4 separate regions of the Homo sapiens genome follow, and regions 2, 3 and 4 are each linked to region 1. The links come from fine-mapping of genetic effects on gene expression. A gene starts in region 1. Each other region holds a variant in brackets. All regions are shown on one strand. Distances are from middle to middle.

Region 1 (5,131 bases):
AAGATCCTGGTGACAATGAACTGCAGTCTCAAACACTTCTGATCTTCTCTGCTTACCTGAAAGTTTCAGCCTACCCTGATGATGTTACCAAGGCAATCTCTCTCCACCCTAAGGCTTCGATCATCTCCCCCTCCACATCCAACCAGGCCCTTAAACCCAACTTGGCCCACACTGAGCTCTTCCGTGCCCACCTTACAGCTGCTCTGGGGGGTTTCAGCTGATAACAGCTGTCCCAGATGCCACGGGACCATGATGTAATTTTTGCCTCCCTCTCCCACTTTCCCCATCCTGTCTGTCCCCAAGTACTAATGAATCCACTTTCAAAATCCCTCCTTCCCAGACTATGACTCCCATCACAGCTGGAAACCAAGTTACCTCTCCCTGCCTTTAGCCTTCCTCTACTTCAACCCATGCTCTGCCAGATGATTCTTCCCAAAACACAGCTCTGAGTAAAAAATTCTGGGCCGGGCGTGGTGGCTCACGCCTGTAATCCCAGCACTTTGGGAGACGGAGGCGGGTGGATCATGAGGTCAGGAGTTCAAGACCCCCCTGGCCAACATGGTGAAACCCTGTCTCTACTAAAAATACAAAAATTAGCCGGGCGTGGTAGCGGGCACCTATAATCCCAGCTACTCAGGAGGCTGAGGCAGAGAACTGCTTGAACCCGGGGGGCAGAGATTGCAGGGAGCTGAGATCGCACCATTGCACTCCAGCTTGGGCGACAGAACAAGACTTTGTCTCAAAAAATAATAATAATAATAATAATTCTGAAGGGTCATGATCTTTCTAACGTCTCCAGGAGCTCTAGCCTGACGCTCAAGGCCCCTCCAACCTCCTGAGCTCTATTCTATTCGCTGTACATTCCACTCACACTGGACTCCCTCCTGTTCCCTGGGCTTCCTCCTTGCCTCACTTTTTTTGAACTCCCACACGCAGAATGTCAGTTTCTCTTCTATCGTCACCGTTTCTACAGCCCTAAGTCCAGCTCTCTTACTAAACTTGGCTCCAATGCTACTCTCCATTAAGCACTGGGTTCTAAATCTGGTCCTCTTTACGTACTTATTTATGGTAATAGCAAACCCTCCTTAGTGAGCTTGTGTGTGCCCCACAGATTCCAATATAATACCACCACCAAGAAAAACCCAGTAGTGTTCCTCATCAAATGAATAGCCAAATAGGATAATAACGACTGCTCACTTATCCAGCAACGCACGGTGGTCATCTGTGTTGCAGGCATAGAGGACCCAGGCACGCTTAAGGCGGGGCGGGCGGGCGGGCGGGGGGGGGGAGTGTCAGCCCGACCTGAGGAAGGTGGTCGCGTGTTTCCACTACACGTCAGATTCCTCTACTCCTCACTGCAGACCGTATACAGCATTACCCATCTTACAGACCAAAACACTGGGCTGAGAGTCAATGTGTCACATCTAGGCGGCAAGCAGGGTGCACACACAGGTATGTCCTGACCCCAAAGCCCGTTGCTTCCTGCAGGGATTAAGCCGATCCACCAAGCGTCTTTCAGACTGCGCGGCCATAGACCCCCGCCCCCAAACACGCCCCAAAGCACTGCGCTCCTGTAGCCGGGTCCCCGCCCCTCGCGCGCCGCCCCAGGCCTCACCCCCGGCCCAGCCCCGGCACGTAGCCGAGGGGCGCGGGCATCCCTAGGAACGGTTTCTTCTTCTTGTTCATGGTGGCGGCGACGACCAAGGCTAGGAAGGAAAGGAATGAGGCAGCGGAAGAGGGAAAGACGCAGAGACTCTAGGCTTCGACGTCCGATGCACTCCGTAGCAAAGTGTCGCCGTCGTCGCGTCACCCGCGCCCCGGAAGCAGAGCGCTCAGTCCGCACACGCCCCGCCCACTTTTGATTCCCTGGGCGGAAGTCCCGACGTCCTGGTTCGACGACTTCCGGCCGCGGCTAGGGGGCAGGAACGTGGTAGGCGCGTGCGCGGGAGCGCCTCCTCGTGGAGAGGCGGAAGAAGCTAGGTCGAGCTTGCACTGGGACCCTAACTGGCCCCTGGGGGCTAAAAACAGCCTGGGGCATTGCTGCTTCCCGAGTGCTCTGATGCAGTCCGGAGACCTGTCTGTGAGAGTGGGACCCATGGTCCCCTCCCTCTGAACCCATGGCCCCCTCCCTCTGAACCAGCCCAGCTGCCCGCCCTCGCCCCTGGTGCGCCCTGTCCGAGCAGAGCTGTACCCTGTCCAGTTGTGTAGAGCTTGTGTGTACTGGTTATGGGCACACCTGTCTGTGTGCGTCCTGTGCGCACACTGCTGCCCTACGCTTTTAGCACTCATATTCTTGAACCCCCATTCAGGCATCTGTCCCTCCAGTGGGACTAGAGACCCCACCCACGCCCGCCAACATGCCTTGGACATTCTGGTGAGGGCCACATCCTTAGCTCCTGGAGAGCTAATTGACGAAATAAATAACCGCAGCTGAGCTGTCGGGAACACGTCAGTACATGAACATGGCTGTCAAGCATGTGGGTGAATTCTGTGTGTGTGATTAGTGGGGTGTGTGCACAGAGGTCACGTGTGCTCGTGTTTTGGGTGCAAGTGCATGACTGTACTCTGTGCATGCATTTCTACATGTCTGTGTGCATCTCTGGTCCTCCTGCTGTAAGACATCCTCCAGAGCCCCTACATACACCCAGGGAGAGCACCCAGGCTCCTGGGCAGAGCAAGCCGAATAGCTGGTTGCAAGCCTGGCCTGCTGCTGCACCAGGCAACCACAGTTCCCTAGCCCAGCCCCATCTCAGCACTTCTCACTGGAGTCCTGGAGCAAACACACCGCTCCGGCCTGCTACAGCCTCCTTGGAGTTCCCCTCTGCCCCATCTCCAGGCAAGCCAAGCCCCTTTCAGTTACAGAGCACTGTACCGCCCCCTCTCCCCCGGGCACTGAGCCAGGTTCTGGGGCTGCAGAGGGAAGGGAGAACCACCCTGATGTTCACAGTGGGGTGGGCGGTAAGCAAGAGTCAAGCTGGTTTCTCCGGGGAAGCGGGTGCCTATTTGAAGGCGAGTAAAGACGTAGGAGACCGAGGAAAGTGTGTGGGAGGCGTTGACCTGCCCCTTGTCCTGGCCCCGGTAGGTAGAAGACCCCTGTGAGATGCCCCTCAGCCCACCCCCACGCACAGAGGGGCCCGACCTCAGAGGACGCCCGGCAGGTTCACGGGGACTCTCCTCCGCGGAGCCGTGCCCAGGGGCGCACGGACGCCCCTCGCCCTGGCGGACAGCCTTGGTGCACGCAGGCCCGCGCGCCGCCGACACACCTCGGAGCTCCCGGAGCGCGCCCGGCACACAGGGCTCGGCGGCAGGTGCCTCGTCGCGCACACTCGCGGGCCGCGGGGACCGGCTCGGGCGCGGGGCCGGCTGGGGCGGGGCGGGGCGGCGGCGCGCGTTCCCCGCCGGCCACACCGGCCGCCCTGCACTCGGCGAGGGGCGTGTGCGCGGGCCTGGCACCCGCGGGCCCCATGTTCACCGAGCTGAGGTCCAAGCTGAGCCCCCCGCGTGGCCGCGCCGGGGCCGTGCGCGCGGGCTTCGGGGAGCGCCGGGATGTGGACGGTGAGCGGGGCTGGATTGGGGAGCGGGGATTTCTCGGGCGGGGGTCTCAGGGACCCAGAGGCACGGGGGCGGGGCGGGACCCGGCGGGCTTCGAGCGGCGGTGGCTGGGGGTATTCGGCGGATGTCTCGGCTCAACGGGGTCCCGTAGCCTTTGTCCTGCTTTAGGGGGCAGCCAGCCTCAGGCCTTGGGGGTCAGCGCGCCCTTGGCTTGGGGTGAGGGGGTGTCAAGCCGGGGCGCCTGTGTCCAGGCTGGCACTACGCTCGGGTCACCTTTTCCTGCGCACGGGGAAAACCCTCCCCCGCTTTTGCAGTGGGGCCGAAAGGGGGCCGAGGTCACATCCCGCCTCGGTGCCCCCGCCCCATTTCCTTCTGGAATCCTGACGTTGGGGCGGGAGGGACCGGACCGACAGACCGCGGGACGGACGGAACTCCCTCCGGGAGTGCAGGCAGGAAATGGGCGGAGCCTGCTTGGCCGGGGCAGGTGCCGTGCGGGCTGAGGAGTCCGACGGGTTTCCCCGGACTGCCGCGCGCTTCTGCACCAGCCCCGCCGCTCGAGGCCCTGCAAAGCCCGGCGACCACGGCGCCTGTCCGCTGGAAGGCGCGGGCTTAGAATAAGCCTTTTCCCACAGCACTAGGGGCCACCTCGGGGCGGTGGCCCACTGAGCACACCCTCTGCTGACCCCAGACCTCAAATTTGGAGTCACCCAGGGGTCCGGTTCCTGAAAGTTGCAAGAATGGGGGCGGAAGGTGTTATGTCTCCTAAGTCTTACAGGCGTGGGAGGACGGGGAAGTAGGATGTGGTTTTCACCGATACTTAGACCTCCTAGACACATCCCCAACCCCTGCCCTGGGTGTGGAGTGGGTGGCTGAGTCTGAGGCCGGGAGGGTCTCTCACTCTAGGGTGGATGGGATGAGGGCCCTAGCGTGGGAACCTCACCTGCCCTGCTGAAGGCCTGGGTGCTAGGGTGCTGTAAAGACAGGGGCAGGCCTGTGCCCACCTTCTGTCTCCCCACAGGCTCTGTTCACTTGCAGATACCATACAGAGCCTTCATTCATTCATTCATTGACAATGAATGTGGGGTGCCCCTCTGTAACCAGACCTGGATCAAGACGCCTGCCTCCCCAGACTCAGGTCAGCAGTGCCCCCAGAGATGATGACAAAGCTCAGATGAAACACTTTAATGCAGTTACTGTGGGAAGAGGGAGCACAGAGCATCACCGTGGGTCCCCAAGCAATGGCTGCACCCCACATACCTGTGCTGACCCGCCCATATCCAATGGGTACCCACCATTCACATGGCCGGTGTTGTCCCGGGCTGCAGGCCCTGTGGGGGGCGGCACAGCTGGAGAGCCCAGCGCGTGTTTGCGGAGTGAGCCCTGCTTGTCAGTTGGCCCACAGTTCAGGCTGTCAATGAGTCATAGTCAGTGAGTCGGGCCCCAACACCAGATAGGGCTGTGTGAACTGGGTGCCTTCAGTGGCGATGGGCAAGCAGCATCCTCAGCCCGGTTTCCCCAGCACAGACGACCTCCCCGGACTCGGGATCTGCCTTTCCTCAAAGCAGGCCGTGTGTGCACT
Region 2 (8,219 bases), 73 kb before region 1:
AGACCCCTCCTGGAGCTTACCGACCTCCGGACTTCCTCCTCCACGGAGCTTCCCCAGCAAGCTGCTCAGGGCCGCCAGACGCTCCCGGGCCCTCAGAATTTGCACCCAGAGGCTGACAGCATCAGAACCATCGATTCTCCTGTGGGGCCTCGCCGCAGGGTGCTGCTCCAGCCCCTACTCCCGCCCTCGGCAGCTGAAGAACTTTCCCTCCCCTGTGCGCAGGCACACATGCACACGCACACACGCAGGCGGGAGCCTCGCACACACGGGGAGCCACTGCGGACTGGTTGGCGAGTGTCTGTCTCTCACCCGGCCCAGAGGCAAGGCCTGGATCCCTCAGCCGCGTTAGGGCTACGGTTAATGTTCGGTTTCGGTTAAACCCTGAGAACAGGCGGAAATGCACGTAGCCTGAAGGGTGGCTCACAGCGGAGGCAGTGCCCACGGAGGAGAGGGACGTTCACTCACCCGCTCCAGGCGCTGGTCCTGGGAGCCACAGCCACATGACGTGCAGGTGGAGGGGAGAGGCCTCCTGACTAGGAGCTGCCACAGGGTGAGGAGTGCCTCACTCCCCTTCACGGACCCAGCGGCCGCACGACACCAGGCTAGGTCTCTGTGGTCACCTGCAGCCAGCCTCACCGGGGGCCGAGCCCCAGCAAACAGGAGGGTTCCATCTCCTCCTCCAGGGTGTCCTCCACACTCGACGTCTTTATGGACAGGGACATATGGATAGGCCTTTAGGAATTCTCTGTGGGCAACGGGGCCCTGTCCTGAGGGCTCTAAGGGGGAGATGTGACCCACCTTGGAGGTCTGAGGGGGCAGCCCTGGCCCCAACAGGCGTCTGGGGAGAAACCCCTGGTCCACCCCACAGGGCCAGCCGCACCTTTGGCCCAAAGGCCTGCCCCTCCCCCATCCTGAGTCCAGGAAACGTCGGAAACTCAGGCCATTTATTTTTCTATTTGTGTCCCCTGCCCCCTGCCCGCCCAAAGCCGGCCATGACCCCAGTGGCCGCTATCCATGCTTCCCCTCTGGCTGAGGCAGCGCCGTGGTGGGAAGGCTCCCGCTGCCAAACTCACACGGAGCCCCCCTTGCTTCCTGCAACCACAGAGCGGGGGCTGGGGATCCTGCAGCCCCAGGAGCCCCCACCCCCTGCCACCCCATGGGCAGCCCTCCCACAGCCCAAGCACCTAGGAGCCGTCTCTGCGCCCCTTTCCATCAGACCCTCCAGCCCACCTTGGGGGCTCTGCCGAGCTGTGACCCCAGTGGACCCCACCCAGGCCTCCCTTGGATGCCCCCACCAGCAGGGCAGCGACGGGGCTTAGGTCCAGCAAGTGCTCCCCTGTCCCATGCGCCAGCAGAGGAGGGCAGGGGATGGGGACTGGGCCCACTGCTCCTGGCTATGCCACTGCAGCACCCGGCTCTCTGGACCTCAGTCGCCCAGTCTGTAGAATGGGAAGAGCCACCTGCCCAGGGCAGCGTCTCTCGGAAAGTCCCCAGCCCAGCCCATAGCCTTGGCCCAGTCCCAGCTCCCTCCCACAGAAGCAACGCTGGGGGAGGCAAGAGGCATCCCCAGAGGCCAGTGGCGGCCCTGGCGGCCTGCTCCAGGCTTGCTCTAACAATGCACTTCCCCCACACAATTCCCAGAAATGCAGCCCTGCCAGCCCGCCAGCCTGGCGGCCACTCCACCCTCCCCTTCCCCAGAGGCCCCAGGCAGCCGTGGGGTCGGGGCTATGGGTGAAGCCTAGAGACCTGACTCACAGGGCAGCAAAACCAGGGTTCCCTGAGGCGGCACCTCCCAGGGGCCCAGGCCTCCCAGAGAGAGACCAGGGAGACTCCTGGGGCAGCCAGATGGGGTCTGAGAGCAAACCTTGGCCAGGCTCCCGCCGCGGCAGAAGCAGAGCCCCCTGCCTTCTGGCAGGGGACTGCCCGTCCCTCCTGCCCCGCACAGCCCCGTCTTCACGTAGCAGCTGAGCTGAGGCAGATCACACTCCACTCAGAACCTCCCAAGGTCCCACCTCACTCAGAAAATGCAAGACCCTCCCAGAGCCAACTCAGCCCCTTGTTCCCTCTGAGCCTCATCCCCTCCTCTCTGCACCCCCTGCTCTGCTCACACCAGCAGACTTCCCTGCCCCAGGGCCTTGGCACATGCTCCTCCCTCTGTGAAAAGACTCCTCCCATGAACCCCCAAGGGCAAAAGCCACGTGTGGCCCTGACACAGCCCCTCCCTATACCTGATGAACCCCCAAGGGCAAAAGCCATGTGTGGCCCTGACACAGCCCCCCTCCCTACACCTGGCACCCCAAGTTCTGGCTTGTTTGTGGATTTGTTTTTGGTTAGGTTTGTTTTGTTTCGTTTTTGTTTTTTGAAACAGTCTTCCTCTGTCGCCCAGGCTGGAGTGCAGTGGTGCGATCTCGGCTCACTGCAACCTCCACCTCCCGGGCTCAAGCAATTCGTGTGCCTTAGCCTCCCTACTACCTGGGATTACAAGCATGTGCCACCACGCCCAGCTAATTTTTGTTTTTTGTTTTTGCTTTTGTCTGGAAACAGAGTCTCACTCTGTCACCCAGGCTGGAGTGCAGTGGTGCGATCTTGGCTCACTGCAACCTCTGCCTCCTGGGTTCAAGCGATTCTCATGCCTCAGCCTCCAGGGTAGCTAGGATTACAGACATGCGCCACCACGCCTGGCTAATTTTTGTATTTTTTTTTTTTTTTTTTAAGTAGAGGCAGGGGTTTCACTATATTGGCCAAGCTGGTCTCGAACTCCTGACCTCAGGTGATCCGCCCACCTTAGCCTCCCAAAGTGCTGGGATTACAGGCATGAGTCACCACACCTGTTTGTGGATTTGTTGATTGTCTGTCTCTTCTCACCATAATGGAAGCTTCCCACAGGCAGGGACCTGTCTGTTTTGTTCTCTGCCAAATTCCTAACCCCTAAAACAGGGTCTACTACACAACAGGTGCTCAATAACAAATGGATGGATAGATGTTGCCTGTCCCTGAGCAAGAAGGGGTGGATGAGCCCCCAGAACACAGGCCTGCCCCCTCCAGCCTATGTGGCAGCCCCAGCTGGCTGTCACCAATGCCAGGACAAGCAACAAAAAGAAACACACAGCTTCAGGCATCCGGCCCTGCAGTGCCCCTCCGTGGCTGGGAGACAGATGACCCCTGAGGATGTTCTCCCTCTCCCGACTTACCAGCCTGGCAGGGGAGAAGGAGGCTGGGCCAGCCCAGGACAGGGTAGTCAGAGTGGACACTGCCCTCCAGGGACCCTGGGGACCGGAGTGTGCTAACACATGCCCCACGGTGCAGGGTACACTGAGAGCCCCATCTGGGCCTCTACAGAGCCACAAATGGACTGGGGCTCACATAAGCACAGGACCAGGTCACCCACAGACCCAAGCCCAAGTCACCACGGTCTGAATAAAGGCAGCCATACAAGCATGGAGGTGGAGACAAGGGTGGGGCCAGCGGAACTTGGGCAGGAGCTCCCAGCCAGTGGGGGCCGGGGCCGCAGCACAGAATGTCTGGCGCCTGCTCAGCCCAAGCTGGCCCCAGGCCCCCTCCTGCAAGGCCGGCCTTCCTTCCTGAGCTGCAGTTTCCTGGCCCCTCCCTGCTGTTGCCTCAGAAACCCGGAGCAGCCCAGCCCCCCAGCCTGCTTCCCATGGAACCCCCCCAACACACACACACACACAAACATCACTGGGAAGGCCGCACAGCAGGCAGCAACACCCAGGGACACAAGCGGCCCTGCAGCCGCCCCCAGGGCAGGACACCCCAAGGGCCACACAATGGCCCCCACGGAGCTCAAGCAGCTGCTCTGACACCCCGACTCTTGCCCAGTGCCCCTAAAAGTGGGCACAGCCCTTGATAACACCCTAGGTACATGCCCACCACAGCACAACACCCCAGAATTTGAGAACAGCTTCCACATCACCAGGGCCCTGGGAGCACCTACAGAAGCCCCGCTCGCCGCAGATGACCCGACCCCGACTGTCCACAGCACATCTGCTACCCGAAGCCCAGCATCACCCTGTGCATTCAGCACTCCCACCCCCACCAGCCCCCTGTGGCCCTCGACCCAGAGAAGCCCCTACCCCTCTCGGTCCTGCTGGCCCTTAGCACCGAGTAGAAGAGACCCTGACACCACACGACGACTGACACCTGACACCACACGACGACTGGCACATCACCCCTTAGACTACAAAAGCACCCCACTCACACCGCACACCCCAGCCTGCAGGCCCCAGCACAGCCCCCTGCACCCACACCTTCAGACCCTTCCCCACTCGCACCGCAACCCCAGCTCTGCATGCAACTCTCGGGTCCGCTGGACTGCGGCAAATCGTCAGGTGAACCCTAACCCCACACCTAACAGTTGAGAGGCGCCGCCCAGGTGAGCAGGAGCATGTGCACCTCTCATGCCTGCTCATGCCTAGGAAAGCACAGGCACCTCCTGCCGCCCCACCTGCCCTCTCCCAGAGTTGAGGCCGGCAGCTATCGGAAGCCCGGTGACGCTGTGCACACCAGGACTGAGAGCTGGAAGGCACGGAGCCAGGAGAAGCCTCTGTCCCTGGGCAAGGGCCACCTGAACCGGACCTGTCATTGGCCAAGAGGGACATGCACACAACTGTGTCCACCTGGTGCTGAGGCGTCAGGCGGCCTCGTCACAGACCCTCGCCCCAGCTTCACATTCTCCCTGCCCTGGCCTCTGCCATGTCTCACTAGGCCTGGAGCCGCCACCCCAGGACAAGGCCCACTAAATACAGAGCTCCTGAGGAGTCAGACATGCCTCCACGGGTCCCAAAGGAAGCCTACCGAGGCAGCAGACAGAAGGAGACCAAGATGCTATGGCCTCTGGAGGACAGTGGCTGGGAGGTCGGGGGCTCCCTGTAGGAAGAGGTGTTCAGCTGTGGGCAGAAGGTAGGATCTGAACTGGAGAGAGCCGAGGTTCGGGAGGCCAGAGAGCCCCCTCCACCTGAAACTGCATCCAACAGGAACCCCCACCTTCACCCTTGAGGAGCAGGAGGGTCCAGGCCCTGCGGGACTCGGTAATTGGTCCCAGCCTCGCTGCTCTTGCAGCCGCAGGGGCTGGGCTGGTGGGATCCTGGGAGGTCTGTGCCCAGGCAGTGGCTGGGAGGTCCTGCCATCCCGGCCCAGAGCCGCGCCAAGCCAAGCTCCCACCCAGAGCCACGGAGGGGGACTACCCAGCATCCTTTGC[G/A]GACCTCACTCAGAGGCCGGGGTTCCTGTCCAAGCTGAGGGAGAGGGGCAGGTGGCAGGCAGGAGGACAGTGTCCACTCAGTGCCCAGGCCAGCCCCACCCTTGTAGAGAAAGCTTGCCCCCAAACTCTGCCTTTCTGACTGGGGCTTGGGGGCTACAGATAGGCTCCTTCCCAAGGGTGGGCCATAGCCCACCTAGTCCAGGACAGACTGAGGTGGGGTTCCAGAGGCAGAGGAATGCCCCTAGACTCATGAACTGCCTGCCCTCTTTTGGAGAATGCTGGGGCCCAAGCTCAGTGGCCAGAGAAGCCTTGGGGACCCTCCAAACTTCACGGAGCAGGACCCCTGGTCCTGGACCTATTATGGGTCCTCATCTCTTCCTGGGAACGTCCAGCTTGCCTGGCTCTCAAGGCCCTGGGCAGCCTCCAGCACTAGAGTCCCCCTCACCCCACACCCAGGCAGACAGACAGACACAGGCCACACACAGATGCACAGACACACATCGGATGCCCCTCCCTCAGCACAGCTGGCCACACCCACACCATCCCCTCTACAGCCCTGGCAAGTCCCCCCAGCCCTGCGGCTCCAGATCACGCCACCCTGGCTGTGGTCCCTACCCCCACTTTGTCCCATCTGGACACTGGGCCAGGGCTGCCAGCCTCCTCCCTGCCACGCAGAGGGAGAGGAGCACCTCAGGAGGCTCCCCGCCCAGCCCCGACTCACAGGACATGACAGCCGGACACCTGAGTCCACAGCCCAGCCAAGAGGGTGGGTCACTGGCTGGCGCCAGGCAAGGCGGCTGCTGGTGGGTGTTGTGGGGGACGTGGAGGCGATGAGGTCATGCCGGACACTGCCTGCCACTATGTTTAGAGCAGCTCCAGTGACTCTGGGCTCTCGGGGGTGGCAGAGGACCAAGCAGGGCCCCCAGGGAACTGCAAATCCTTCCCCACGTGTGAGGGCTACTGCAGAGGACCCCGAGGACCTCTTTCCCAGGCCGCAGTGACCAGCCACTGCCCAGGCTGAGCCAGGCCCTGGTGACCCCTGACTGCAACCCTAAGGTTGTGAGTAGAGAGAGCTTCCGCCAAGTGGTAGCCCTTTGGGGTCTTCGCACGGCTCCCCACCCCCCCTGCACCCTCCTGCCAGCTGCCCAGGAGGCCCACCCACACTGAGACTCGGCCAAGGGTCCAGCCACCCATACTGAGATTAAAGGAGGACTAGCAGCATCCGGCAGAGGCCTGTGAGCCCCTCCATCCCTGTGGCCACAACCCTGCCTGCCTCCCCAGAAAAGCCAGGGGCCGCACCTCCTGGTGCCCCACGGGCCCCCCATTAGCCAGCACTGGCTCAGTGTCTGTGAACGAGGTGCTAGGCCCGTGGGGCAAACTGGAGGGACGGGAGATCTGGAGACCAGACTGGGAGACCCAGCCCCGTATGCTGGGACGATGGGCGTCGAGACAGACTGTGATGTGGGGCTTTGGGGAGGGCTGGACACCGACCGCGACAGCCCTCGGTGGGAGTGCCCCTGTGGGGGTGCTGGCCTCAGGGCAGGAGTGCCCCTGGGGACAGTTCAGGAACAGCCTCTAAGGGGCACTGCAAGGCCCACGTGGGGCCCACCCCATTCATAACACAGGCTGGATGTGGCCTAGCGAGGCTGGCAGGGACAGAGAACCAAGAGCTTCTGGCCACACAGGCTCAGGGTCACAAGACCTGTGGCCTCTACCCATGGGGCTCCCGGCATAGTGTGGCGGGGGGAGCTGGGGAGCCTCCAGGCTATGAGGAGATGTGCCGCGAGGTGGCGAGATTCTGACCCTGCCTGGAGGGCTGCTGGGGACACCCAACCCTTCTCCAGTAGAACCATGCGTGGCAGTGGGAGGGGAGGACCTCCAGAGGGAGACCCTCAGCTCTGGAGCCCAGATCCCCTCCTGATGGAGTAGGAAGGGGACAGTGAAAATTCAGGAAGCTGGACGCTCCTCCGGAACCCGCCCCCGCCCAGGTCAGAGGGTCCAGGGAGGGGCCAGTGGGAAGGACCCAGGTAGGCCCTGCCTCTTGCTGCAGCGGTGGCCTGGGCTGGGCAGGGGAGCCAGCAAGCCACTGAGGGTCCCAGCCCCTTCCCCAAGGGCCCTTGGGGGGCAGGGAGGACGCCACAGCCTCTGCGTCCCTGCTCCCCCTTCTCTTTGTGGGCTCCGTCCAGGGCCTCTGCTCTCTCCCTCCCTGTGTCAGCTTTGCCTTGTGCCAGAGTTGGTTTGGGAGTGAGGACAGAAGACCATCTTGTCCCATAAAGGCACTCAAAGTCCCTGGTGCTGACGGTTACACATGGGTGTAGAGTTTCCAGCATGGGCGCCCCTGGGGACTCAGAGCGCCTCCCCAAAGACGGGGCCTTTTCTGAAGGCGCTGCACTCCAGGAAGGACTTACCGGCTGTTGGGAAGGCAGCCTCCCCAGAACTTGGTGTGAAAAAGGGCCCTCTCCTCCCCATGGAGCCTCCCAGCGGGGGGCGGGGAACGGCAACCAGCGGGACACTGCCGCCCTCCCCCAGTTACTGCCCGGGGGTCCGACTCCGTGGGTGGGTGGCAGCTCGCCTCCGAAAGTCTGGCAGCACCGGCCCTCATCAGCAGCCCTTTCTTTCCCACCCGGGGGGTCTCTCCTTCTGAGAGGTCGCGGGGGAGGTGGGGGGGCTGTGCGCGGGGGAGGCCTCAGCGGAATCCCGCCCGGCCTGAGAAGAAAGGGAGCCCCCGGGGAGGAGGCGGCCCCGACCCGCCCCCGCCCGCCCGCCCCGCCGCCGATTGGCCCTGAGCCGCTATATCTGGGCGCCCGCCCGGCCCGAGGCCACCGCCGTCCCCACCGCCATCCGCCCTCCCGGCCTGGCCTGCCCTTGCGCCCGGCTCCCCAGTGCCCGCCGCCCGCCCGCCGCGCTCCCGCGCTCCGTTCCGCCCAGGCCGCGCCCAGCTGGAATGCAGAGATCGCCGCCCGGCTACGGCGCACAGGACGACCCGCCCGCCCGCCGCGACTGT
Region 3 (5,916 bases), 38 kb before region 1:
CCAAGATTGCGCCATTGCGCTCCAGCCTGGGCGACAGAGAGAGACCTTGTCTCAAAAAAAAAAAAAAAAAAATTAGGTATAGTATATATTTACCACGATAAAAAGTTACATTAATTAGAAACCTGTAAAAGACAAGTGAATACAAACAGGAAAAAACCCATCCACTCAACAGAACTACAGTAAACACAGTTCTATTTTCTTCAGGCTTTTTTTTCCCTATACTCAAGAATGACTTTATCTTTTGGTTAGCATCAACAACAAAAGAAAACAAAAAAGCCAGTCACCATTTGCAGCGCTAAAGCCTCTGGGGGTTCGTCTGACTGGCGATCATGACACCTGGAGACTCACTGGGCCAGGTTCAGACACCTGTTCCCACTCAGCCTCACACAGGGGCAAGTCACCGTCCTCTGCGCCCTGCAGATGCTGAAAGGATTTTTTTTTAAAGACAGAGTCTCGCTTTGTCACCCAGGCTGGAGTGCAGTGGCGCGATCTCAGCTCCCTGAAACCTCCACCTCCCAGGTTCAAGCAGTTCTCCTGCCTCAGCCTCCCAAGTAGCTGGGATTACAAGCGCCTGCCACCACACCCAGCTAATTTCTGTATTTTTAGTAGAGACGAGGTTTCACCATGTTGGCCAGGCTGGTCTCGAACTCCTGACCTCAAGTGATCCACCCACCTCGGCCTCCCAAAAGTGCTGGGATTCCAGGCATGAGCCACTGCGCCCGGCCGCTGAAAGGATTCTTGTACCAAGAAGGAGTTTGTTGCTGAAGGTAAGTGAGAGGCCACCAGGAAGTGGGTCAGGAACAAAGTTTTGCAACTATGAACATGACAATGGCAAAGATCTGGACTGGCAGCTCAAAGCTGTCCAAGTCCCCACACAGGGGCACCCAAGAACAGTTCCCAGAGGAACAGCTGCCTTCTACGAGAGGAAGGGACAACAGTGAGCCTCCCAGTTAAGGAGCCCCAGCATGAAAATGGGTCAGGAGGACGAGGAGTGGGGATGTCACTGAGATTTCTTCACTCAGACCTGATGCCTCCCAAGTCACATGGCTTCAGTCTGACTCAACCAGCACAGAAACCAGCAAGGGCCCTGCCTCAGGCACTGTGTCCTGACCAGGAGCATCTGAGGGGGTCAGGGAGGATGCCGGTGAGGGTCAGGCCCTGGATAGAGCACTCTGGTCTATGCCCCTCTCTGTGATTTCTGATCCAAGTCCTGAGGGTTGGTGACAAAGCATTTCAGATTCTCCATCGCCTCCTTGGACCTTCACAAGCAACCCGAGAGTGGCCTGAACACCCACAGGATCAAGTGATGCTGTGCCCAGGGCCCTGGTGTCCGGGAGGGAAGCAGCACCACAGCACACTTCTGGGCACAGAAAACACTGTCCTCCTTACTCTAGCATCACGAGCACTTTGAAAAACAGCTGTGCTTACTCCAGTGTATGTGAAAGAGATGACAAAATAATAAGAGAAAAACAGGCCAGGAGCAGTGGCTCTGGGAGGCTGAGGCAGGTGGATGGCCTGAAGTCAGGAGTTCGAGACCAGCCTGGCCAACATGGCGAAACCTCATCTCTATAAAAAATATAAAAATTAGCCAGGTGTGGTGGCAGGCACCTGTAGTCCCAGCTACTCAGGAGGCTGAGGCAGGAGAATTGCTTGAACCCTTGAACCTGGGAGGCGGAGGTTGCAGTGAGCCAAGATCGTGCCACTGGACTCCATCCAGCCTAGGAGACAGAGTGAGACTCTGTCCCAAAAAAAAAAAAAAAAAAAACCAACAACAAAAACTATTACCGCTGCCCTGCGTCTTAACTCACCTAAGGATTGATGTGTGTATTTTAGCATACATGGGGCAGGAGGATGGCCCAGCCGGCACACAAGCTCTGGGTCACGCCACACGGGGTGCAAAAGAATCATGTGTGTATCACACGGTCAATGCCAGCAGTGGGGTCTGATTCCAAGGACCAAAGGAGGAGCCATTGACCAATCCAGATGGAAGGAAGTGAACGCACACGGATGAAGGAGAAAGTGAAGCTCTTCGTTACTGTAGAATTCCAACTAATAAAATGTAAGAGAAACTGTTCACAAAATCATTATGCAGGTGTGACCAGGCACAGTGACACGCCTGTAATCCTACATACTTTGGGAGGCTGAGGT[G/A]GGATCACTTGAGGCCAGGAGTTCGAAACCAGCCTGGACAACATAGTGAGATACTGTTTCTACAAAAAAAATTTAATATATAAAAAAAGATTTAAAAAAAATCACCATTTAGCAAACACCACAGAAATAACTGATTCAGGCCAAGAAGCATCATTAATGGATCCTCAAAATACTTATTAATAATAACAAAGAAACAAACAGCAACCATACAGTGGAAACACCTGCGGCCACTGCCCGCACCAGACGGTCGGAGTTGAACAGGTGCACACCTCTCCGTATGATGCACCAAGAAGCCTCAACCCAACCCGGAGGAGACACCACAGAGAACCAGATGAAAGAGGAGTCTACAGCATCACTGGCCCGTGGTCCTCAAAAAATTCACACTCAGGAACAACAAAGGCTGAGGCTCTCTTCCAGACTAGCCTGAGGATGACCCTGTATTCCTCACAGAAGACAGTTGGTTTTTTCTTCTGCTAAAAGGACACAGAGACAACGGGTGAGACTTTTTCTTTTTTTGAGATAGGGTCTTGCTGTCACTCAGGCTGAAGTGCAGTGGCGCAATCACAGCTCACTACGGCCCCAAACTCCTGAGCTCAAGTGATCCTCCCACCTCAGCCTCCTGAGTAGCTGGGACTACAAGCGTGCACCACCATGCCTGGCTTTTGTTTCTGTAAAGATGGTGTTCTGCCATGTTGCCCAGGCTGGTTTCAAACTCCCGAGCTCAAGCGATCTGCCCATCTCGGCCTCCCAAAGTGCTGGAATTACAGGCGTCAGCCCCATGCCCAGCCTGTGGGTGAGATTTGAGTAAGGTCTGAAGTTACCTGACAGCACTGTCCCAACATCAATGTCCTGATTTTGATAACTGAGCTATGGCTGTGTAAGAGAACGTCCTCTTTTAAAGAAATACACACCAAAGTGTTTAAGGTAAAGGGCACCACATCTGCAACTCATTCATTGTCAAACAGTTCCAGAAAAAAAAATAAGAGGTAAGTGCATGAGAGCGAACAGAGTAAGAAAGCAAATCTGCGGCCAGGCGTGGCGCCTCACGCCTGTGATCCCAGCACTCTGGGAGGCCGGGCGCGGCGGCTCATGCCTGTGATCCCAGCACCGTGGGAGGCCGGGCGCGGCAGCTCACGCCTGTGATCCCAGCACCGTGGGAGGCCGGGCGCGGCGGCTCACGCCTGTGATCCCAGCACTCTGGGAGGCCGGGCGCGGCGGCTCACGCCTGTGATCCCAGCACTCTGGGAGGCCGGGCAGGGCGGCTCACGCCTGTGATCCCAGCACTCTGGGAGGCCGGGCGCGGCGGCTCACGCCTGTGATCCCAGCACTCTGGGAGGCCGGGCGCGGTGGCTCACGCCTGTGATCCCAGCACTCTGGGAGGCCGGGCGCGGTGGCTCACGCCTGTGATCCCAGCACTTTGGGAGGCCAGGCATGGCGGCTCACGCCTGTGATCCCAGCACTCTGGGAGGCCGGGCGCGGTGGCTCACGCCTGTGATCCCAGCACTTTGGGAAGCCAAGGCGGGGTGGATCACGAGGTCAGGAGATTAAGACCATCCTGGCTAACACGGTGAAACCCCGTCTCTACTAAAAATACAAAAAATTAGCTGGGCGTGGTGGCACATGCCTGTAGTCCCAGCTACTCGGGAGGCTGAGGCAGGAGAATGGCGTGAACCCAGGAGGTGGAGGTTGTAGTGAGCTGAGATAGCGCCACTGCACTCCAGCCTGGGCGACAGAGCAAGACCCCGTCTCAGATTTAAAAAAAAAAAAAAAGAGTTTTAAAATAGCCTAGTAGTTTATAAGGTGCCTGCTGTTCCCACAAGCAGAGACTCCATATTACGGACAAAGGCCCCTGTTGCCAACTCACACTGTCAGCATCCTCCATCCAGGTATGCTTCCGATCTTCCTCCTCAATCCCAATCCCAATCACGGCACGCATGACGGCCTGGCAGGTGGCCACACTCCCAGCCCTGTCACATTCCTCGGCATCCTGAAAGAGGAACACAAAACTTATTTGTGATTTTGGAAATCAGAGCTGCAGATTCCCAACGGGGAGTACGGAGTTCCTGAACGGTTAAAACTGACAGACATCAGCACAAGATGCTGACACTGCCTACTGGGGATCTGAGGAAGTGAGTCTACTGCACGCCAATCAGAAAAAACAATAGAGAAATGTCACAAAGGACATAGGCACACTGTTCACTAGAAAATAAAAATACAAACAACTTTCAAACATGTGAAAAGAAATGTAAAGCCTTTTTATTTTATTTTTTTAAGAGACAAGGTCTCAGCCAGGTGTGGGGGCTCACACCTGTAATCCCAGCACTTTGGGAGGTCGAGGGTGGATCACGTGGTCAGGAGTTCGAGACCAGCCTGGCCAACCTGGTGAAACCCTGTCTCTACTAAAAAATAAAATACAAAAATTAGCCAGGCGTGGTGGTGGGTGCCCGTAATCCCAGCTTACTCGGGAGGCCGAGGCAGGAGAATCACTTGAACCCGGGAGGCGGAGGTTGCAGTAAGCCAAGATCACGCCACTCCACTCCAGCCTGGGCAACGGAGCAAGACTACGTCTCAGAAAAAAAAAAAAAAGAGAGAGAGTCAAGGTCTCTCCCTGTCACTCAGGCTGAAGTGCTGTGGTACAATCATAGTTCACTGCAGCTTCCAACTCCCAGGCTCAAGGGATACTCTCACCTCAGCCTCCCGAGTAGCACAGACATGCACCACCATGCTCAATGGTACATTATGTTTCATAGATACAGGGTCTCCTTATGTTGCCTAGGCTGGTGTTAAACTCCTGGTCTCAAGTAACCCTCCTGCTTTAGCCTCCCAAAGTGCTGGGATTAGTGCATAAGCCACCACACCCAGCCCCTATTCTTATTTTCAAGATGCTAATTAAACTATTCTAAGTACCATTGTGCACGTATCAGATGAGCAACATTGAAACATGTGCTGACTGGCTCACTTGGTGAAGGGGGCATAAATCTTATACTGCAAAGAAGCACATATCTCTATGGAGGGCAATTTCTCATTCTCTATCAAAATAAAACAGGCACATATTTGACCCAGCAGTTCTACTTTAAGGCATTCATGTGACAAATATATTCCCATGTGTGCAAGAGAATGTGTCTACCAACAAGAGAACAATAACCCAGCCAGAGCAACAGGGTGCAGGAGCACAGGCACCACTGCGGCATGCCAACATGGGGGACCACGACATGGACCGTGAGCAAAGTGCAACCGGAGCCACATGCCTCCCAGACCCTCCCAGGGCCCTGCCAGCACCAGAAAACCATCCCAGACAGAAAGCAGAGCCAAGAGCAAGGATCTGAGGCAGAGACGCTGGCACAAAGGTCAGTGGTGAGAAGAATGCGTGGGGCAAGGACCCAGCACCCAGACCCTCAGGGGCCTGCGGCAAAGGTGCTGGCTCTTCCTCCATGGACAGTTTCTACTGAACGCAAACTGCGCTGGCTCTTCCTCCATGGACAGTTTCTACTGAATGCAAACTGCTTTTGAACCACGGCAAAAGTCAAACCATGGGAAGTCAGGGACCATCTGTAGTTGCAAATCATGTCTCTGATAAGTGACAATATATCCAGAATATATAAAAACATCTCTTACAACTCAATAATAAAACAACAGACAAAAATAATACATAGACCATAATAAAGACACAATCCAATGTAAAAGTAGGCAAAGGATTTCAATACCTCCATGCTACAACATGGAGGAACCCTGAAAACACACTAAGTTAAGGCCAGTCACAAAAGACCA
Region 4 (8,219 bases), 29 kb before region 1:
CAGTGAGCCATGACTGCACCACTGCACTCCGGCCTGAGCAACACGGCGAGACCCTGTCTCAAGAAAGAAAGAAGGAAAGAAAGAAAGAAGAAGAAAGGAAGGAAGGAAAGAAAGACAAACTGTCATAAAATATAACAGAAAATAGTAATTTCATTATTTATTTTTCTTGAGAGAAACATAACTCAGTGGGTGACTCCTTAAAAGAAGGCATTAGAGGGAACCCAAGCCCTACTTCCTAAGTTAGATCATCTTTGGAAACTTTTCTATAGCCTTAAGTCTACAGACAAAGATAAAAGACAGGGAAGACCAAGGCGGGCAGGTTGCTTGAGGTCAGGAGTTCGAGACCAACCTGGCCAACATGGTGAAACTCTGTCTCTTCTAAAAATACAAAAATTAGCTGGGTATGGTGGCGGGTGCCTGTAATCCCAGCTACTCAGGTGACTGACGTAGGAGAACTGCTTGAACCCAAGAGGTGGAGGTTGCAGTAAGCCAAGATCGTGCCACTGCACTCTAGCCCTCTAGCCTGGGTGACAGAAAGACTCCCTCTCAAAAAAAAAAAAAAAAAAAGGGTGTGGGGGAGAGGGGAAGAGTAAAAGAAGCCATGAGACTTCCTGTCCTCCTCTCGTAGGTGTATCATTTCTACTAGCAAAGAAAGAAGCCATGAGACTTCCTGTCCTCCTCTCGTAGGTGTATCATTTCTACTAGCAAAGAAAGAAGCCGTGAGACTTCCTGTCCTCCTCTCGTAGGTGTATCATTTCTACTAGCAAAGAAAGAAGCCGTGAGACTTCCTGTCCTCCTCTCGTAGGTGTATCATTTCTACTAGCAAAGAAAGAAGCCGTGAGACTTCCTGTCCTCCTCTCGTAGGTGTATCATTTCTACTAGCAAAGAAAGAAGCCGTGAGACTTCCTGTCCTCCTCTCGTAGGTGTATCATTTCTACTAGCAAAGAAAGCCGTGAGACTTCCTGTCCTCCTCTCGTAGGTGTATCATTTCTACTAGCAAAGAAAGAAGCCGTGAGACTTCCTGTCCTCCTCTCGTAGGTGTATCATTTCTACTAGCAAAGAAAGAAGCCGTGAGACTTCCTGTCCTCCTCTCGTAGGTGTATCATTTCTACTAGCAAAGAAAGAAGCCGTGAGACTTCCTGTCCTCCTCTCGTAGGTGTATCATTTCTACTAGCAAAGAAAGAAGCCGTGAGACTTCCTGTCCTCCTCTCGTAGGTGTATCATTTCTACTAGCAAAGAAAGAAGCCGTGAGACTTCCTGTCCTCCTCTCGTAGGTGTATCATTTCTACTAGCAAAGAAAGAAGCCGTGAGACTTCCTGTCCTCCTCTCGTAGGTGTATCATTTCTACTAGCAAAGAAAGAAGCCGTGAGACTTCCTGTCCTCCTCTCGTAGGTGTATCATTTCTACTAGCAAAGAAAGAAGCCGTGAGACTTCCTGTCCTCCTCTCGTAGGTGTATCATTTCTACTAGCAAAGAAAGAAGCCGTGAGACTTCCTGTCCTCCTCTCGTAGGTGTATCATTTCTACTAGCAAAGAAAGAAGCCGTGAGACTTCCTGTCCTCCTCTCGTAGGTGTATCATTTCTACTAGCAAAGAAAGAAGCCGTGAGACTTCCTGTCCTCCTCTCGTAGGTGTATCATTTCTACTAGCAAAGAAAGAAGCCGTGAGACTTCCTGTCCTCCTCTCGTAGGTGTATCATTTCTACTAGCAAAGAAAGAAGCCATGAGACTTCCTGTCCTCCTCTCGTAGGTGTATCATTTCTACTAGCAAAGAAATGCAGTCAGGTGTGCACACACTGAAAGGGCTTCTGAAGTGTTCACCCCAAGACGAACTCCAGGCCTGAATCCATCAAGAGCGACAGTGGGCATGCCCAGGTCCCTCAGGGCCCATTCACACCTGTGCCTGCTTCTGGTTTGGCACAGGACTCCCCAGTACCATCCAGCAACCCCCAGTCCTGCGTGGGACTCTCACGTGCTGCATGTGCACTGTTAAAGCAGACACCACGACACCCGCCTGCGGCCCACCTGGATCCACTGCTCACGGTTGATCTCCACACCGTTGGCCCGCAGCGAGGTGATGGCTCGGTCGATGATCTTCTCCACCATCTGCGTGTTCCCATTGGCTTCCTCCAGCTTAGCAGCCGTGATCCAGATATGTCGGTCTGTAGGAATGTTCTCCCGCGCCTTGTTCAAGACCTTGCGGGCATTTTCATAGGTCTCCAGCCTTGCCAGAGCAAGCCAGAGCTACGCGGAGAGGACACGAGAAAAAGGAGAGGACACTGTGCTGGGGGGACAGCTGCAGGCCAGACAGCGACCCACCCTCCAGCGTTGGCCACCACGTTCTTTCTTAGCTCTCGAGAACCATCTGAACATGGCCTGAGAAGTGTCCACAGCAGCACTTCTCACCTGACCAACTGTTCCTTTATGCTTCTGACTCATTTAGTGACTCTCGTGAGCATCAAAAGATTCTCAGTTGAATGTTCACAAACACAGCCTCCAGGCACACAGCACGCCAGACCTGATACCAGGGGCTGGCACAGACGAGCAGGATGAGGCTACTGCCCTCACAGGCTAAACACACAGAAGGGTGTTCAGCCTCCTGAAGTTCCCAGACCCTTGGTTCTGCAGCATTCCATCCCTAAGATGTGTACGGGCTTTATTCATTTTTATGTAAATAAAATAAGATTAATGTTGTTTGGAGAATTTCACAATACCCCTTAGGATAATTAAAGACATACTAGGTATCATAAAACCAAGACTAAAAATCACTGCACAGAATGCTGTGAACTGGAATGCTTAAAACCAAAGAAATCCCACTTAGCTTAGAGGCAAAGAGCAGTCATGCGGAGCTGACAGAAAGCAATGTTTTCTATCACGCTGCCACCTTCGGCTCCCATGACAAACTCTGGGCTGCTGAGAGGAAATGGCCCCTGAGCAACTGCCCAACAGAGAATTTTCTGCAGTGGTCAGGTATGAGCTAAGATTCTCCCTGCACGTCCATTAAGAGCACAGCTAGCTGAGGCCACTGACCACCCTGCCTAGCGGCTATGTACAGAACGGCATCCTGGGGTTCCACAGGGCCTTCTGCTCCCAGAAATTGCAGCCTGAGTGAGCTCAATGCTCCACTTGTATCATCACTTCCAGACACTGAACCTGGGCTCAGGCCTTGGCCACTTTGGGCTCTGGTGGCCCTGAGCCCGCCAGACTCACCTCCACGCTGGTGGGGCAGCACTCCACAGCTCGGCTCAGCATGATTCTAGCATCTTCAGGTTCTTCCAGCTCAACGGCTGCTTTCCACAAGCGAAC[C/T]GAGTTTGGAACATGCTCGAGGGCTAGGAAAGGTCAAACGAGAAACCACGTCACAGAAAAGGAGATAAAAACAGGAGGCTCATGTGGTGAGCATGCTGCTGGTCAGGATGAGACGGACTTCCCTGGTTGACAGTCAGGGACCACACACCTGCCCTTTATGTGGCTTCCTTCAGGTCTGGGGCAGACACAAACAAGGACAAACGGAGCATCTTGTGGTAGCAGAAAGCAAGGAAGTGACTGAAGACTGCCAGGGTCATATCAACAGGACTCAGGAAACCAGTGACCACGGGAATGAACCTCAAAAACATGCTGAACAAAAGAAACCAGTCCCAAAACAGTTTATACTATATGACTCCCTTTATGTGACGTCTGAAAAGAGGCAAAACTAATCTTGGTAAAATAAGTCAGAAGCATGACTGCCAACGAATGGGGATAGTATGGATTGATTGAGAGGCACCAGGGGACTTTCTGCGGGGATGGAAATGTTTTTGTTTTTGTTTTGAGACAGAGTCTCATTCTATTGCCCAGGCTGGAGTACAATGGCACGATCTCAGCTGACTGCTACCTCCGCTTCCTGGGTTCAGAGATTCTCCTGTCTCAGCCTCTAAGGTAGCTGGGACTACAGGTGCGCACCACCACGCCTGGCTAATTTTTGTATTTTTAGTAGGGACGGGGTTTCACCATATTGGCCAGGCTGGTCTCAAACTCCTGATCTCAAGTGATCCGCCCGCTTCGGCTTCCCAAAGTGCTGGGATTATGGGCGTCAGCCACGGTGCCCACCCTGGAAATGCTCTATGCCTTGGTCGAGTGTGGGTTACAGGGGTGCATGCACTTGTGAAGACATCAAACTGCACACTTAAGATCTACGTAATTCACTTCAAATATTTACGAAAAAATGCCAGTGTCTGAAATACCTCTCTTTTTTTTTTTTTTTTTTTTTTTTGCGATGGAGTCTCGCTCTGTCGCCAGGCTGGAGTGCAGTGGCGTGATCTCGGCTCACTGCAACCTCTGCCACCCGGGTTCAAGCGATTCTCCTGCCTCAGCCTCCCAAGTAGCTGAGTACAGGCGTGCAGCCACCATACCCAGCTAATTTTTGAAATTTTAGCAGAGACAGGGTTTCACCATGTTGGCTAGGATGGTTTGATCTCTTGACCACATGATCCGCCCGCCTCGGCCTCCCGAAGTGCTGGGATTACAGGCATGAGCCACCACGCCCGACCTAAAATACCTCATTATTACATGTTTTCCCTTAAATAAAAATACCTAAAACTTAAAAAAAATTCAAGAGCAAACTAGAAGAGACTTCCACTGGACAATGATCAGAGAGTCTGAAGGTCAATAAGCATATTAAGAATATTACCTGCAATGTATTCAAACCCATGAAATACCACAGCATTCAATAGTTCATAACAAAGCTCCAAGAGACCATTAGTCACCTTTGGAGAATGCTAGAGAATCAACGCATCATCCCGAAAGTTGAAAGGAAGCAAATCAAATATCTATTCTGTCTTTCCCAAATAAACTCAGAATAACCAAATCATGGATATAGGAAAATTCTTCTCTTAAGAATAATTCTGGCAATAAAAGCAAAGAGTGACCTAATTATAATGTCACCGTTTTGCACACCCTAATGAAGGAACAGATGCGGGCACGGGTCACCAGCCACTGCCAAAGGCAGGAGCTGAAAGGCTGTGGAGAACTCCATGAAGGACACTGGGGCCACTGAGCAGTGACAGCCTCTGCAGCTCCTGACGCTGCTTGCATTGCCACGAATATTTCCTTGATAAAAAAAGAAAAAAAAAACACAAAGCTTACTCTTATGAGTCTCCAAATCTACCTTCCAATTTACAAGAGGATACAGGAAACAGAGGATACAGGAAACGAGACCCACATGAAACAATCTCACAGGCTGCAGTGAGCAAACCCTGATGTGAGGAATCTCAAGGAAAAACAACCCAATTCCATCAACAAACCGAGAGAAGACATCAACCAAACGGCAATGTTCAGACTTTGCTTAGATCCTGATTCAAACCAACCATGTGTGCATGTGGTTATGCATGCATGTGCCCGTGCAGGTACTGACATGACAGCTGGAAAAATATGAATGCAGTAGACATTTAATGATGTTAAGAAATTAGGCCGGGCCAGGTACAGCCCGTAGCTCACGCCTGTAATCCCAGCACTTTGGGAGGTCGAAGTGGGCAGATCACCTGAGGTCAGGAGTTCGAGACCAGCGTGGCCAACACAGTGAAACCTTGTCTCTACTAAAAATACAAAAATTAGCCAGGTATGGTGGCATGCACCTGTAATCCCAGCTACTGGGGAGGCTGAGGCAGGAGAATCGCTTGAACCCAGAAGGCGCAGGTGCAATAAGCTGAGACTGTGACACTGCACTCTAGCCTGGGTGACAGAGAGAGACTCCAACTCAAAAAAAAGAAAAAGAAATTAGGCCAGGCAGCTGATTGTGGTGGTTCACACCTATAATCCCAGCATTTTGGGAGGCTGAGGTGGGAGGATCGCTTGAGCCCAGGAATTCGAGACTAGCCTGGACAACATGGCGAAACCCTGTCTCTACAAAAAATACAAAAATTAGCTGGGCGTGGTGGCATGTACTTGTGGTTCCAGCTAGCTGGGAGGCAGAGGTGGGAGAATCGCTTGAGCCCAGGAGGTGGAGGTTGCAGTGAGCCAAAACTGCACCACTGAACTCCAGCTCCAGCCTAGGCAAAAGAGGGAGACTCAGTCTCAAAAAAAAAAAAAAGAGGAAAAGGGCAGGGCAGGGGAGGGGAGGCGGGGAGGGAAGCGGAGGCGGGGAGGGGAAGAGGGGACGGGAGGCAGAGGGGAGGGGAGGCGGGGAGGGGAGAGGGCAAGTGAGCTAGCTCTCCTGCAGGTACCTGCTCTCCTGCTGAGAAACAGCCCCAGGCTGGCTGTGAGGCCCTGGCAGGGAATGAACACTCAGCTAAGGGACATAAAATGACTGAGCAACCTGCTGCCCACTCCAGGTGTTACTGACAGACCAAGCCACAAGGTTGGGCAGATGCAGCAGTGGCCTCATAGGGTGGAAATGGCACCCAGGAGATGGTGTGGAAGGAAGGCAGGTGCAGCACAGCTGCCTAAGCTATGGGGCAGATGCCTCCTGCACTGGTGGCTGCTCAACCGCTTTCCTCCCTCAGCCCACACTGACAACCTCTGGGGAGTCCCTTAGGGTCAAGGGACTGAGAAGACAAAAGTCTGCTGTGGTTTACGCATGGTTCTGCACAGCACACTGGCACTGACACCCCTGGCCTTATTATCTGGATGTCCACTTGACCAACTGAAAGACGGCCAGAAGACGAAGCTATATGAATTCACCGATTCAGGCAGAACATGGTCTTACCATGTGCCCATCACTCAGAGCCATGGCCTGGCAGCCCAGTAGGATGCCACAAATGCTGTGAATAGACACCAATCCCGGCTGGATCTCACAGCCAGAACACACGGGTCTAGGAATAAACAGTGATGTCTGAATGGCTCAAGTCCCATCTCCGCTGCCACAAGTCCCGTCTCCACTGCCAAGAGTCCCGTCTCCGCCTCCTTGGACCCTCCTGTCAAGAGAGCTGGTCCAAAGGCCGGGTGTGGTGGCTCACATTTGTAATCCCAGCACTTTGGGAAGCTGAAGCGGGTGGATCATGAGGTCAGGAGTTCGAGACCAGCCTGGCCAACACAGTGAAACCAAACCCCATCTCTATTAAAAATACAAAAATTAGTCGGGTGTGGTGGCAGGTGCCTGTAATCCCATCTACTTGGGAGGCTGAGGCAAGAGAATTCCTTGAACCCAGGAGGCGGAGGTTGCAGTGAGCCGAGATTGCGCCACTGCACTCTAGCCTGGGCAACAGAGCAAGACTCAGTCTCAAAAAAAAAAAAAAAAAAGAGCAAGCTACGAGCTACTCCAAAGGGAGTATGTGCCAACCAGGGTGCAGACCACAGCTCCCTCTGGCCTCCTCATGTACCAGCCCTGGCTGGAGAGGCTAACCCTGACTCCCAAAGCGAGACTGAGTTGCTGCCACCCACTGTGGGAGACTATCTAGAGGCCAGTCCTAAAAACAGTTTAGTATTTCTGCTTTTACCAGTAAAAGTTAATGGGAACTACAGCCACCAAAAAAGCAAAACTACCAACAAGTCAGACCCTTTGGGGATAAAGATATGGGTCCTGGCTGAGCACAGTGGCCCCCATCTGCAGTCCCAGCATTTTGGGAGACTGAGGTGGGAGGATCACTTGAGCCCAGGAGTTTAAAACCAGCCTGGATGACACAGGGAGACCTCGTCTCTTTGAAAAATTAAAAACTCAGCCAGGCATGGTGGTATGTCCCTGGAGTCCCAGCTATTCAGGAAGCTGAGACTGGAGGATAGTTTGAGTCTGGGAGGTTGAGGCTTCAGTGACCCATGATCATGCCACTGCACTCCAGCCTAGGCAACAGAGCAAGATCCTGTCTCAAAATAAAAATTATTTAGGCATGGTAGTATGTACCTATGGTCCCAGCTACTCAAGAGCCAGAAGCAGGAGGATCACTACAGCCCAGGAGGTTGAGGCTGCAGTGAGCTGATTGCAACACTGCTCTCCAGCCTGGGCAATAGGACGAGGCTCTGTCTAAAACAAAAAAAAGATTTGGGTTACTCATCCAGGTCAAGAACCCTGACCAAGCAGGGTGACAGCAGAGGGCACAGCAGTAAAGAAGGAAAGTCCTAACCTCCAACCAGGCGACTAGGCATAGAGAGAAGACACAGAACGACCCAGTTGTTTTTCCTGTGCGCTCTCACCTCGACTGCGTGGGAGATGAGTGCTCTATTTGTCTAAATATGAACTACTTCCCTTAATACTTTGTACATTGGTGGAGATGAACTTCGCGTCTCTAAAGAACAGAATATTCATGCGGGACTCAA

What was found. PIP is the estimated chance that this variant, and not a neighbour inherited with it, causes the effect.
Region 2: its variant is the best candidate, but not a certain one, in a credible set for the expression of PRPF6 in whole blood (TOPMed, PIP 0.66).
Region 3: its variant is the best candidate, but not a certain one, in a credible set for the expression of PRPF6 in whole blood (INTERVAL, PIP 0.72).
Region 4: its variant is the best candidate, but not a certain one, in a credible set for the expression of PRPF6 in whole blood (TOPMed, PIP 0.63).

What each region holds. Positions count from the first base shown.
Region 1 is chr20:63,977,801-63,982,931 of GRCh38, reverse strand. It overlaps PRPF6 (pre-mRNA processing factor 6), which reads right to left and starts at 1,800. Exons shown (of 21, transcript NM_012469.4): 1 at 1,616-1,800. The coding sequence starts at 1,686. It overlaps SAMD10 (sterile alpha motif domain containing 10), which reads left to right and starts at 3,290. Exons shown (of 5, transcript NM_080621.5): 1 at 3,290-3,555. The coding sequence starts at 3,465. RefSeq lists silencers at 1,506-1,615, 3,176-3,495 and enhancers at 2,686-2,745, 3,341-3,856, 3,842-4,136.
Region 2 is chr20:64,049,457-64,057,675 of GRCh38, reverse strand. It overlaps SOX18 (SRY-box transcription factor 18), which reads left to right and starts at 8,037. Exons shown (of 2, transcript NM_018419.3): 1 at 8,037-8,219. The coding sequence starts at 8,160. It also overlaps a transcript of TCEA2 not described here. RefSeq lists enhancers at 1-596, 1,287-1,976, 1,977-2,666, 4,047-4,736, 7,485-8,166 and promoters at 7,897-8,157, 7,260-8,157, 7,052-8,160. The variant G/A (reference allele first, on the strand shown) is at 5,216.
Region 3 is chr20:64,014,942-64,020,857 of GRCh38, reverse strand. PRPF6 (pre-mRNA processing factor 6) reads right to left here. Exons shown (of 21, transcript NM_012469.4): 12 at 4,013-4,135. Among named protein-coding and RNA genes, the nearest start is that of C20orf204, 18 kb to the left of the region's middle. RefSeq lists an enhancer at 2,960-4,159. The variant G/A (reference allele first, on the strand shown) is at 2,149.
Region 4 is chr20:64,005,306-64,013,524 of GRCh38, reverse strand. PRPF6 (pre-mRNA processing factor 6) reads right to left here. Exons shown (of 21, transcript NM_012469.4): 10 at 3,207-3,325; 11 at 2,022-2,240. Among named protein-coding and RNA genes, the nearest start is that of C20orf204, 27 kb to the left of the region's middle. RefSeq lists an enhancer at 884-2,083. The variant C/T (reference allele first, on the strand shown) is at 3,303.